Homo sapiens: one gene and its partners. The protein of the gene in region 4 interacts with the protein of the main gene of each other region in a biochemical or structural test. Each region holds a gene or a part of one and is shown on either strand. Other genes may lie near its edges.

Region 1 (3,771 bases), on a different chromosome or scaffold from region 4:
AAATCACTTTGTAAGGATGTTCATTAAATAGAAAAATAATAAAAAGGGAATTTCAGACTGCATCTTTATGGAACAAAGATAGCAATGCTCAAAGGAATGTGTGCCTTCTGTAAATTTTTAAAATCGTTTGAAAGTACAATGATGTGTTAGGAAGCAAAATTTTAAAAAAGGAGAAACTAGGAGCTAGGCTAAATGAGATGATTTTACATGATCATTCACATGTAAGAAATTAGGTGCTCTACAAATTCCTTGGTAAGTAAGCTGTTTTTTTAACAGCTGTATTTAAATAAATGTTAAGGCATTTTATCAAAGTGAACGTAGAATAATATTTGTTCAATATAAAAATACATTTTCATTCTCTCTAGAATGTATTTAGAAGCAAAAGAAACATGATTATTTTAAAACATTAATTAAATTGCTGTTTCTTTTTTACATATTTAAATGACTTGTTTTAAAGGAACATAGGACATCATTTTATATATATTATATATACATAAAATAACAAATAAAAATAACAAAGTGCTGTCTTTGTTCCATAAAGAACCAAGGAATTTATATATATATAAATATATACATTATATTTATATATATAATCTACATTTTTATATAATCTACATTATATGTGTGTATATATATATAATCTACATTATGTGTGTGTGTGTATATATATATATATATATATATATATATATATATATATGAAAAATCTACAAGATTACCAAAGAGGATAACAGAGACATACAAAAAAGTAGTCTTTTTCTATTCCTTTGGAAAACAACAAACCCACATAAAAGAGAGCATTCAAGTTCAAGCCACAATACTGTAATCACACACCATCACTACACTAACATAATCAAGCAATTCTAATCACCCATCATATCCCCAGCACCAAAGTAAAATACTCTGAGCTCCTTACCTTTGTGAGAACTGCTGTGTGTTCTTCTCCACAACTAATATAGACAACTTTTTGCGTGCGTAAGAGTTTTACATGGCATGGAGATTCTCGATCTAGAATAAATTAAATATCAGAATATCACTACCATTTGCCTTTGAGATGAAATATACACAACTATCTTGGCATGAATTTTGGATTCCTGGATTCCTGACGCATGTTCAGTTTCCTGCCTGCATCTGTACTTGGATATCCAACAGACTTCTCAGTTTTAATTTACCTAAAACCTACCTCATGGTTTCCCTACACTCTCCAACCCTGCCCACTCTCCAGCTCACTTTACTACACACGGTTTTCCCCATTTCAGAAACAGTCATTTTGCCCTTCCAGCTGTTCCTTTATTTCAAACCACACATCCAACAGTGAACAAAACCAACTGGCCTCATCTTCAAAATATGTTTAAAATCTGACTTTACTCCCACAACCTCCAAGCTGGTCTTCCAGCTTCCCCCTTGACCCACTACAGCCAAAGCCAAAGTGGATCACGCTTCTCCTCCAAACCCTCAGGGTCTTCCCCTCTCACTGAGAAAACCAGTTATATCCTCACCCTGCCCCTCAGGGCCCTGCATAACTGGGTCTACACGACTTCTCTGACCTGCAGCTGTGCTACTCTTCCCCTTCTCTCCAACTACATCTCTTCCCACATGAGCACCTTTGCACACCCAGTTCTCTCTGACAGGAACATTTTTCACCCAGACATTTACATGTCCCATCTCCCACCTGATTTCCTACAGGTTCTGCTCAAACATTTTCTTATCAGAGGGGCCCTTCCCCACCACCTTATGTAAAGCAGGAAGCTGCACTCTCAAATCCTGTGTATTTACTGGTTTTGTTGCACCTCTACTCACTAGAATACAGTCTCCACTAAGACGAGGATGTTCTCTATTGTGTTCACTGCTTCTCCCTTAGTATCTCACATGGGGCTAGCACATAGTAGATCCTCAAGAAGCATGTGTTAAATGAATGTGCTTTTAAACTAAATACATACATATGAAGGGTTTACCTACCTTTTTCATCACTGAGCCCTAGCTGCCCGGCATTATTCATCCCCCAGCCAAAAACAGCTCCTGAGAGAGACAGGGCAAAGCTGTGAGCCCCTCCGGCAGCCACCTGAGCCAGTGGGATCCCCTCCAGGGACCTCACCCTCTGTGGGCTGGCTTGGGAGGGGAACTCCTTCCCTAAGCCAAGCTGCCCATGGCTGTTCTTTCCCCAGGTGAAGAACTGGCCATCTGAAATAACAGGATAACTGGTATTACCATAAAATGATACAAGCTCCACACACAAAAATAATCTAGTTATTAGGGTCATTTGCCAGTTGCCCCCCAACACCAAACCCACCCAAGAGCAAAGGAACAGAGATACTTCATGCTATCAGACTGCCAAAACCAAAACTCCCAAGTGATATAACAGAGAGGTAAGCTGAGTCTTACTGCCCTTCAAAGGCTATTAAAATTTATACACAGAAAATATTAAATGTATAAGTAAATTCAATTTCGGACAGGCCAATTACCAGGCTTAAGCAAGATCACACTAGTTCTGACCACACTAAGACTATGAGACCCAAGACTTCGGGAGGTCCAGCAATGACCACTTGGTCTGCTCTGCAGATAATCAAGCAGGACACAGAAGTGCAGATTTATTTAGGTTTCTCCAACTCCTTCTTTTTCATTCATTTGGGAGCTTGATAGTGGAATGTAGCTTGAGAGTTGGCTGTCGCTAAGAAAAATCAATCTCCTCCATGCTCAGAACACCTAGGTATGGTCCTGCCCCCTGCTTATCTTCCCCTGTGAAAGTTGGAGCAGCAATGATGACCACCTACTTCATCACCCACACCCTGAGAAAAGGATGAGCTATGCAAAGCCCATATGAGAATTGTCACTGTCCAACAGCAATGCATAGACCCTAACCAGTTAATTCAAAGTTTTCAGTTAGATAATATCACACAAAAAGACAAAGAGAAATGTTTTCAAAATTAACATAGCATTAGCATATGTTTAATGTTACTTTACCAGCCGCAAGAGCCAAGCAATGCCAGTTGCCACAGGAAACTTGTAATATTGTTTGCTGGTTCAGCTTTTGTATTAACCTAAAACAGAAAAGGCTTTCTTTTTCAGATAGATATTCACACACAAACACAATTATCAGAAATATTCCCAATTAAATAAAATGTCAGTAATAAATAACACCATCTTGCCTAAAAGTCTTTTTAAGGCCAGGCACAGTGGTTCACGCCTGTAATCTCAGCACTTTGGGAGGCCAAGGTGGGCTTATCACCTGAGGTCAGGAGTTCGAGACCAGCCTGGCCAATATGATGAAACCCCATCTCTACTAAAAATACAAAAAAAATCAGCCGGGCGTTGTGGCACATGCCTGTAATCCCAGCTACTCGGGAGGCTGAGGCAGAGAATTGCTTCAACAATTCCCCATCACCATTACTCTTGTCACAATCAGTTGTAGAAAAGAAGCAGGTCAGAAGAACAAAGACAGATAATAGAGAAATTGTACCCTTGAGGTGGGGAAGAGGGAGTCCATACAGTGCAAGCACATACTGTATTTTACCTACTTGTCTCCTTCTATCCTCCCCATAACCCTGTAAGGTACATAGTAAGTAATTTTTAAGTTAGGAAACTGAGGCTTAGAAAAGTTAACCTGCCCAAGGTCATTCACCTTACAAGTAAAAGAGCCAGTATTGGAATCCAAGGCTTGTTTGACATCAAAGCTATGTTACTTTCCACAATACAAAGGTATAAATTAGTGAATTTATTTCAATTAACTTATAATAGAAAACTATATACAAATCAAAGTCTTGGAAGTCATCC
Region 2 (3,771 bases), on a different chromosome or scaffold from region 4:
AAAGAAGAGGGAGCTACAGAAATCAAGATTCTGTGGTACTGGAGGAGGGATAGGTACACAGATTAATGAAATAAGCCCCCACAAATATGTCCAACTGCTTTTTGATAAAGGTACAAAAGCAATGTAATAGAAAATGAAAGATCACCTTTCCAACAAATGATGCTGGAGTAAAGACATGTATAAGCAAAAAAAAAAAAAAAAAAAAGAGGACCTTGACCCAAATCTATTAAAATTAACTAAAAATGGATCATGACCCTAAATACACATTTTCAAACTGTAAAAACTTTTGGGAAAAAAAGAGAACATCTTCAGGATCTGAGACCAAAGATTTCTTAGACACCAACAGTTTGACCATAAAAGAAAAAAATGGATGCACTGGATTTCTTTCTTTCTTTTTTGAGACAGGGTCTCACTTTGTCACCCAGGCTGGAGTGTAGTGGCAAGATCACAGCTCACTGCAGCCTCAACCTCCTGGGCTTGTTATCCTACCACCTCACTTCTCCACCCTACTCCCCAGTAGCTGGGACTAAAGGTGCACGCCACCACACCCAGCTAATTTATAAATTTTTTGTAGAGATGAGGTCTCACTATGTTGCCCAGGCCGGTCTTGAACTCCTGGGCTCAAGTGATTCTCCCACCTCAGAAAGTGGATTTCATCAAAATTGAAAACATGTGCTCTGTGAATAACTCTGTTAAGGGAATAAGAAGAAAAGCTCAGCCTGAGCAACATGGCAAAGCCCCATCTCTACAAAAAATATAAAAATTAGCCAGGTGTGGTGGCACATGCCACAGTCCCAGCAACTTGGGAGGCTGAGATGGGAGATCACCTAAGCCGGGAGAGGTCAAGGCTGCAGTGAGCCATGACTATGCTACTGCACGCCATCATGGGTGACAGAGTGATACCCTGTCTCCAAAAAGAAATAAAGAAAAGCTACAGATGGGGAGAAAATATTTGCAGACCATATGTTTAACAAAGGACTAGCATATAGAATATATACAGAACTCTCAAAAGTCAACAGTAAAAAGCCAAAATGGGCCGGGCACGGTGGTTCATGCCTGTAATCCTAGCACTTTGGGAGGCCAAGGTGGATGGATCACCCGAGGTCAGGAGTTTGAGACCAGCCTGTCTAACAGGGCAAAACCCCATCTCTACTAAAAACACAAAAAACTAGCCAGGCATGATAGCAGATGCCTGTAATCCCAGCTACTTGGGAGGCTGAGGCAGGAGAATTGCTTGAACATGGGAGGCGGAGGTCGCAGTGAGCTGAGATTGTGCCATTGCACTCTAGCTTGGGCGTCAGAACGAGACTCCATCTCAAAAAAAAGAAAATAATAATAAATAAATAAATAAATAATAATAATCCCATTAGATAATGGGCAAAAGGGCCAGGTGTGGTGGCTCACGCCTGTAATCCCAGCACTTTTTGGGGCCAAGGGGGTGGATCACTTGAGCTCAGGATTTCGAGACCTGCCTGGCCAACATGGCAAAACTCTGTCTCTACAAAATATACAAAAATTAGCCAGGCGTGGTGGTGCCTGCCTGTAATCCCAGCTACTCAGGAGGCTGACACAGGAGAATTGCCAGAACCTGGGAAGAGGAGGTTGGTTGCAGTGAGTCAAGGTAGCACCACTGTACACCAGCCTGGGCAAGAGCAAGGATGTCTAAAAAAAAAAGAAAAAAAGAAAGAAAGAAAAGAAAAGAAAAGAGAAAAGAAAAGAAAAGAAAATGGACAAAAGACACGAAGAGACATTTCACCAAAGGATACATAGATGACAGACAGGCACATGAAAAGATGTTCAATAGCATTAACTATTTAAGAAATGCAAATTAAAAGCACAATGAGATACCACTACACACTTATCACAATGGCTAAAATAAAAAATAATGACAGCATTAAATGTTAGCAAGGATGTGAAGAAACTGGATTATTCATACATTGCTGGTGGGAATGTAAAATGCTACAGCCACTCTGGAAAAGAATTTGGCAATTTAAAAGAAACTAAGCATACAACTCCAATACATCTCAGCAACTGCATACTAGAGAAATGAAAATTTATGTTCACATAAAAACCTGTAAGTGAATATTTATAGCAGCTTTATTCATCATAGCCCCCAAATGGAAACAACCCAGATGACCTTTAACAGATGAATAGTTAAACAAACTGGTACATTCAGACCACAGAATATACGTAGAGAATCCCTAATCCAAAAACCAGAAATCCAAAATGCTCCAAAATCCAAAACATTTTGGGTACCTACATGATACTCAAAGGAAATGCTCACTGAAGCATTTAGGGTTTCAGATTTTTGGCCTAGGGTGCTGAAGTGGTAAGTAAGTATATTGCCAATATTCCAAAACCCCCAAAAATCCAAAATCCAAGACACTTCTAGGCAGACATAGTGGCTCATGCCTGTAATCCCAGCACCTTGGGAGGCCAAGGCAGGAGGATTGCTTGAGGCCAGGAGTTAGAAACCAGCTTGGTTAACATAATGAGACTGTCTCTACAAAACAAAAAATCAAAAAATTAACCGAGCGTGGTGGTGCACACTTGTAGTCCCAGCTACTTGGGAGGCTGAGGTGGAAGGATTGCTTGGGCCCAACAGGTCAAGGCTACAGTGAGCCATGATCCTGCCACTGCATTCCAGCCTAGGTGACAGAGCAAGGCCCTGTCTCAAAAACAACAAAACATTCCTATACCACGTTTGGAGAGAAAAAAACCACAAAACCACACATCTGGTCCCAAGCATTTTGGATGAAGAATACTCAACCTGTACTACTCAGCAGTAAAAAGGAACCAACTACTGATACACTCAGTAACCTGGATGAATCTCCAGAAAATTATGCTGAGTGAGGAAAAGTCAACCCCAACAGGTTATATACTATATGATTCTAGTTATATAATATTCTTCAAATGACAAAATTATAGAAATGGGGAATAGATTCGTGGGTTGCCAGGGGTTAAGAACAGGTTGGGGATGGGGGGCAGGTACGGTGGCTCATGCCTGTAATCCCAGCACTTTGGGAGGCTGAGGCGAGCGGATCATGAGGTCAGGAGATCGAGACCATCCTGGCCAACATGGTGAAATCTTGTCTCTACTAAAAATACAAAAATTAGCTGGGCGTGGTGGCACGTGCCTGTAATCCCAGCTACTCAGCGTGAGGCAGGAGAATCCACTGAACCAGGGAGTTGGAGGTTGCAGTGAGCCAAGATGGCACCACTACACTCCAGCCTGGCGACAGGGCGAGACGCCATCAAAAAAAAAAAGAAAAAAAAAAAAAGAAAGAAACAGGTTGGGGGGGATAGGTGTGGCTGTAAAAGGGCAACATAAGGGATCCTTGTGATGATGGAAATGTTCTGTACCTTGACTGTATCAATGTCAATAACCTGGCTGTTATACTGTACTAGTAGTTTTGGAAAATGTTACCATTGCAGGAAACTGGGAAAAGGGTACACCAGATCTCTGCATTATTTCTTACAAATGCATATGAATATACAATTATCAAAAAATAAAAAGTTTAATTTTTTTAAAAAGGCTGGTACATGTAAGGGTATGAGCTGTTCTCCACTGGTGGCAAAGAGGTGGGTGATGATAATTCATATGAAAAGGAGTATCTGAGTGAGGCACTTAAGCAAAGGAGAGGATACATGGAAAGAGAGACGGCTTGAGAGCCACTTTGTCCAGAGCCTTACTCTGCTATCAGAGAAAGAAAATTAAGGACTAGTCAAGCAAAGATACACAAATCTTAAGGCCCCACTCAGTACGGTTTC
Region 3 (3,771 bases), on a different chromosome or scaffold from region 4:
TATTCTTGATGCTACAGATATACTCAATAGCAATCAATGGTGAATGTGGACAAAGGCATAATACTGCATTGTTTGTGAGAAAAAATACTGGAAACATGGAAATGTCCATCACCAGTAACTGTTTAAATAAACTAAGATACATCCATATTAAGACATATTATGCAGCCTGTAAAAGTCCTCAGGTTGTTAAAATAGTTACATAAAACAAATAAAGTGTAGAAAATATAGTATGCTTCCATTCATGTTTAAAAAAATAATAAGGGGGAGGCCAGGTGCAGTAGCTCACGCCAGAACTATGAGAAGTCGAGGTAGGAGGCCAGGAGTTTGAGACCAGCCTAGGCAGCACAGTGAGACCCCTGTCTCTACAAAAAATAAAAAATAAAAGGAAGAGATATTGACACATTTTAGAAATACAGTTTGGAAAAGAAAACACAACCAACTGGTAAGATATTTGTCTCTGTGGAGGGAGTAGAGGCACTAGGGGAGTTAAGATGGGAAGGTGTTGCTTTTCTTTATGATTCTACAAAATTTAACTTTGTATTATCCATGTACTTTTACTTTTGAAAACAGTTAATGAGGCCAGGAGCGATGGCTCACACCTGTAATCCCAGCACTTTGGGAGGCTGAGGCGGGTGGATCAACTGAGGTCAGGAGTTGGAGACCAACCTGGCCAACATGGTGAAACCCTGTCTCTACTAAAAATACAAAAATTAGCTGGGTGTGGTGGCGGGCGCCTGTAATCCCAGCTACTCAGGAGGCTGAGTCACGAGAATCACGAGGCAGAGGTTGCAATGAGCCTAGATCGTGCCACTGCACTCCAGCCTGGGCAACAGAGCCAGACTCTGTCTCAAAAAAGAAAAAAATACTAGCTAATGAAATATGTAAATAAAACCATTGTTTAAACTCCCATTCCTAACCAGGCATGGTGGCTCATGCCTTTAATCCCAGCACTTTGGAAAACCAAGGTGGGAGGATCACAGGCAACATAGCGAGACCCAAACTCTACAAAAAAAAAAAAGCCAGGCATGGTGGCACATGACTGTGGTCCCAGCTACTCAAGAGGCTGAGGCAAGAGGATCACTTGAGCCCAGAAGGTCAAGCCAGCAGTGAGCTATGATCATGTCATGGCACTCAAGCCTGGGTGGCAGTGAGACGTGTTTAAAAAAAAATTTTTTTTTTTTTTTTTGAGAGGGAGTCTTGCTCTGTCACCCAGGCTGGAGTGCAGTGGCACAATCTCGGCTCACTGCAACCTCCGCCTCCCAGGTTCAAGCAAATCTCCTGACTCAGTCTCTCAAGTAGCTGGGATTACAGGCGCCCACCACCACACCTGGCTAATTTTAGTATTTTTAGTAGAGTTGGGGTTTCACTATGTTGGCCAGGCTGGTCTCAAACTCCTGATCTCAGGTGATCCACCTGCCTCGGCCTCCCAAAGTGCTGGGATTACAGGCATGAGACACTGTGCCTGACCTAAAAAAATTTTTTATTAAAAAAATAAACTCCTACTTCTGAAATTCACTAGTGATATGAACAAAGTCACAAGGAATATACCTCCCACTCTAGCAAACAACAACAAAAGGCCAGATGAGCTAGAAAATAAAACATATGTTTAATTCATCAGAAAGCTAAGGACACAAAGAAATCTAGGTTGGGTGCAGTGGTTTATGCCTGTAACCCCAGGACTTTGGGGTGCTGAGGCAGGCAGATCGCTTGAGCTCAGAAGTTTGAGATCAGCCTGGGCAACATGGTAAAACCCTATCTCAACAAAAAATACAAAAATTAGCCGGGTGTGGTGGTACACGCCTGTAGTCCCAGCTGCTCAGGAGGCTGAGGTGGGAGGATCAACTGAGCCAGGAAGGCAGAGGTTGTAGTGAGCTGAGATCACTACAGGCTGTACTCCAGGCTGGGTAAGAGTGAGACCCTGTCTCAAAATAAAAACAAAAACCAAAGAAACCTAAATGATCCAAACTCCAGAAAGTGCCAAGTCCTTCATAGGAGAGAAGAGACCCCCTAGCTGTTGTTATTCCTAGTTGAACTATGGTAGGAAGAGGAATACTACAGGGGGGAGAAAAGAGAAACCTGCTGAAATTTAACAACATTTTCACAACCCCTTGGAGGCTGGTTTGACATTAGAACCTAGATGACCCAAATCCACAGAGGAAGGCTTCCCACCAATCTTACCCCTTAGATGATAACCAGGTACAGGAAGGTGTAGTACACTAAAGGTGTGGATAATAGAAGGAACGCTGAGAGAGCTTGACTTCTCCCAAGGGCAAAATACCCTTTAAAAATGAAAGGGGAGGCAGGATTGTTGTGAAATCCAACAGAGGCACTCTTGGAGCCTAAATGGGGTCAGAAATGCTGAGAAACCCATCCCCTAGGCATTGTGGGCATTCCTCTACAAAAGGGCAGGGCACACATGAGAGCTGAGAAAGATCCTCCTATCCCCAGCCCATTGATTAAAAAAAAAAATCCTGGCAGCAAGGTTGTAAAGTAGGGAAAGATCTCCCACATTGATAAAAGCTGGTGGCTTAGCTATGAAGCAAAGTCAGATCTCTGGAATCTTGCCAATGCCCAAAACTCAGGCCCTGGTGATATGAGAGTTCTGATTCTACGTTCCTTCAAATATTTGAAGCTAGAGGCAAACTGAATCAAACTAAAACTGCAGTGAAGCCCCAGTCTAGAATTCATATACATCAGATTGAGCCACCATTCAAGTGGCCTGAAAAAAAAACAAAGGGCATGCTCTGTTTTGGAAGTAAACATTTTCTTCAATTTCTTTTTTTTTTCAACATAAAACGTCCATCATCCAATCAAATATACAAGACGTGCAAAAGCAAGAAAATAAGATTCATGGTAAGGGAGAGGAAGGGCTCAATAGAAGCAGAACTAGAAAAGACCCAGATGTTGAATTATCAGTTTGGATCCTTAAAATAACTGATTAAAAATGAAAGAAAAAACAGAAAAAACCCAATAAAATAACTGATTAAAATGCTAAAAAGTAGAATGGAAAATGTGGAAAACATGCATGAAGAAATAGGAAATTTCAGCAGAAAATTGTAACTATACAAATATAATGAAATGCTAGAAATAAAAATATTAGAAATGAATAATTCAGTACAACTATGTATCCATAAATAACTAAAAATAAAAATTTTTAAATGGAGAATTCAATAAACAAGTTTAACAGGTTAACATTGGAAAGCATCAAAAAACTTAAAGATGGTTAAATGGAAAGTATCCAAACTGAAAACAAAAAGAAAACAGGGCAGGGGAAAAATCATCTGAGATCTGTAGGTTTATATCAAATCATCTAATATACATGTAACTAGAATCTCCAAAGAAGAGGAGAAGCAAGAGAGTATGAGACAAGAGAAAAATGTAAACGGATAACGGCCAAGAAAGAACCAATATTAATGAAAGACATCAACACAGATCCAAGAAGTTCAGTAAACTCTATACAAAGAAAAACATACCTAGACATTCCCTAGTCAATCTACTGAAAAGTAAATATAATGCACAGATGCAGCCATTGAGAACAACCACACATTACGGAAAGGAAATAAAAATTAAAATGATGAATGACTTCTCACCAGAAACAAATGAGGCCTGAGTACAATAAAATAACTTCTTTAAAGTACTGAAAGAAGAAATAAAAGGTCAACATAGAGTCCTATATCCAACTAAAATACCCCTCAAAAATAAAAGTAAGGACATTCTCTTATAGACAAAAGCTGAGAGAACTCATCTCTTATTAAAAACTGCAGTAGGGCC
Region 4 (2,681 bases):
AATTAACTGATGTTACTGTGGTAACATCAGCTGGAGTTTCACACAAGAACTGAGGAGAAGGACTGGAGGAGGGGTGTGGCTGTTTGTTTTTAAATTTTTTAAAAGGATGTTATAAACTGGAGTCAGGAGAATTTAAACCAACTCCCACACTGGGCAACAGTGCCACACATGCTAAGAAAAGCCACCAGGACCGCCAGGGCAGTCTCTTCTCCTTTGTGGAGGCGAGCCCGGGGTCTGGGGAAGTAAGTAAGTGAAAAATAAACTCGGTGCCAGAAAGTGGGAGTGGCAAGGGTAGGGAAGAAAGGGAACCACAACCGTTTTTTTTCCTTTTTTTTAAACCTTATGGGTTAAATGTAACTTGAAGATTTTGGATAAAATTGGACAAGAAAAGAAACACCATTCTTTTGAAGTAGATTGAAGCAGTGATTTTTAAAACAAAGAGAGCAGAACTAGAACATCTTAAATTTTTAATCCTTTCTTTACAGGTTACCTAGACCACTTTTGATTAAGAAAACTGTAGAAAGTTAGTAACTGCCACAAGCGAACGCCAGGCGGTGGCACGTGTCAATTTCCACAGAGTCCTGCTTTGCGGGGTGTCTGAATGCACTGCACGGGGTCTCTGCTCACACTTGCTGGAACCAATCGTGGCAGATTTTAGTCCACAGGTCGCTTTTCCCCATATTTCTTTGTAAACTCTTCAGCATTCTTACAGAATTTTTTACGGTCCTTAGAGTATTCTTCAGCTAGGTCAGCCCGAAGCGGGTGCTCAGGCTGGGGGTCATTCACCAGTGCTATGAGGGACTGGATTACTGCCAAGAGAAGGACAAGGCATGGGGGGTTAACACAGTCTCAGAAATGGCACAGGCAAGAGGCAGCTAATCCGGGAACAAAACTCTGGCTTTACAACTGATTTACAGCTAATGTGCTTTTAAGCCAAAGCTGCCTCCTATTTATCCAAAATTCTGACTGCCAGAAAACTCATCTTTCCTCTGTGATTAGAAGACACTGATGGACAACAAATAGCTAACACTACAGTGGATAATTGTTCACAGTGATGTGCTTCCGCCTCCAGGAAGCCTTCCTGACCTAACACCTGGGGAGGTCTTAGCCCTCAGTCACTCCCAGCCCTTTTTTCTTGGCGGGGGGTTGGGGAGGAGGGACAGGGTCTCACTCTGTCACCTAGGCTGCAGTGCAGTGGCACCATCTTGGCTCACTGCAGCCTCAACCTCCTGGGTTGACCTCAAGCAATCCTCCAGCCTCAGTCCCCCAAGTAGCCAGGACTACAGTCGTGCACCACCATGCCCGGCTAATCCAGTCCTCTTGTGTACTCTGGAGATAGGAGGCCTAGTATTGAACTGACTGCTCACTCTCATGCATGCACACAGGGTCACTTTCTTCAGGGCAGGACCGGGTAGAACTTCCCTGCATCAGCCCAGCACCCAGCACCATGCTCGGCTCAGGGAAGTTTCGGTTAAGGTGACTGAGTGGGCACTAGAGAGAAGGGTATGTGATGGCGCTGCACTTGTCAATGCGCAATGACCCAACTCTGGAAGACCCTTAGGAGTTTCTGAACCCTCTAGAAAGGGTCACTGGGGCCAGCCAATGGGAAGCTGACAACCGCCATCGCATCACATTGTCAAGACCACAGGCAGATGTCACGCTGATGGCTCTGATGGGTGCCACAGTACTCCCCCTAGGTGCCGTAGCCCAGACGTGCCCCAGGGTGGAAGGATAGTGGGGAATCAGAAGCAGCTGCTACCCACACCTCCTCACATACTTTGCCACAGTTGCCCCCTGACCCTGTCAGGACCAGCACCCTCAGAATGTTCCTTCCCACTGTAAAACAGTGCCCCTCTTCTCCGAACTGCTGATGCCACAAATTCCTTCTTATTTTTTTTAGACAGTCTTGCTGTCACTCAGACTGGAGTGCAGTGGCTCAATCATACTTTACTGCACGGTACCCTCAAACTCCTGGGTGTAAATGATCCTCCTGCCTCAGCTTCCTGAGTAGCTGAGACTACAAGCACATGCCATCACGTCCAGCTAATTTTTTTTTTTAACCTAGGCTAGAGTACAGTGGTGCAATCACAGCTCACTGCAGTCTTATCTCCTGGGCTCAAACAATCCTCCCACCTTGGCCTTGAGAGTAGTTGGGATTACGGGTGTTAGCCACTGCTCCTGGCCTAGTTTTTTGTAGAGATGGGGTCTCACTATGTTGCCCAGGCTGGTCTCAAACTCCTGGGCTTGAGTGATCCTACCGCCTCATCCTCCCAAAAGTGCTAGGATGACAGGCATGAAGCCACTGCACCTGGTCAATTCCTTTATTAAGGGCTCATATTGTTCATTCAGCATTACAAGAAATGGATTAAAATGCAAATGCTAGCCAGGCAGATCACCTGAGGTCAGGAGCTCAAGACCAGCCTGGGCAACATGGTGAAACCCCGTCTCTACTAAAAATACAAAAATTAGCCAGGCATGGTGGCCCATGCCTAGAGTCCCAGCTACTCAGGAGGCTGAGGCAGGAGAATCGCTTGAACCCGGGAGACGGCAGTTGCAGTGAGCCGAGATCGTGCCACTGCACTCTAGCTTGGGCAACAGAGCGAGACTCTGTCTCAAAAGTAAATAAATAAAACAAAATGCTGATGCTGGCTGAGTCATATGCAAAGGCATAATCATTCAAC

What was found.
Region 1: the proteins of UBE2L3 (region 4) and HERC3 form a complex in vitro, tested with the Homo sapiens proteins (3 studies listed by BioGRID).
Region 2: the proteins of UBE2L3 (region 4) and AREL1 form a complex in vitro, tested with the Homo sapiens proteins (4 studies listed by BioGRID).
Region 3: the proteins of UBE2L3 (region 4) and ARIH1 form a complex in vitro, tested with the Homo sapiens proteins (18 studies listed by BioGRID and IntAct, with this or other methods).

What each region holds. Positions count from the first base shown.
Region 1 is NC_000004.12:88,651,279-88,655,049, reverse strand, and holds part of HERC3 (probable E3 ubiquitin-protein ligase HERC3), read right to left. Parts: intron 3,039-3,771; coding exon 2,962-3,038; intron 2,182-2,961; coding exon 1,960-2,181; intron 1,009-1,959; coding exon 917-1,008; intron 1-916. UniProt on the Homo sapiens protein: E3 ubiquitin-protein ligase which accepts ubiquitin from an E2 ubiquitin-conjugating enzyme in the form of a thioester and then directly transfers the ubiquitin to targeted substrates.
Region 2 is NC_000014.9:74,678,511-74,682,281, forward strand, and holds part of AREL1 (apoptosis-resistant E3 ubiquitin protein ligase 1), read right to left. Parts: intron 1-3,771. UniProt on the Homo sapiens protein: E3 ubiquitin-protein ligase that catalyzes 'Lys-11'- or 'Lys-33'-linked polyubiquitin chains, with some preference for 'Lys-33' linkages.
Region 3 is NC_000015.10:72,596,129-72,599,899, reverse strand, and holds part of ARIH1 (E3 ubiquitin-protein ligase ARIH1), read right to left. Parts: 3' UTR 1-3,771. UniProt on the Homo sapiens protein: E3 ubiquitin-protein ligase, which catalyzes ubiquitination of target proteins together with ubiquitin-conjugating enzyme E2 UBE2L3.
Region 4 is NC_000022.11:21,619,643-21,622,323, reverse strand, and holds part of UBE2L3 (ubiquitin-conjugating enzyme E2 L3), read right to left. Parts: intron 810-2,681; coding exon 655-809; 3' UTR 1-654. UniProt on the Homo sapiens protein: Ubiquitin-conjugating enzyme E2 that specifically acts with HECT-type and RBR family E3 ubiquitin-protein ligases.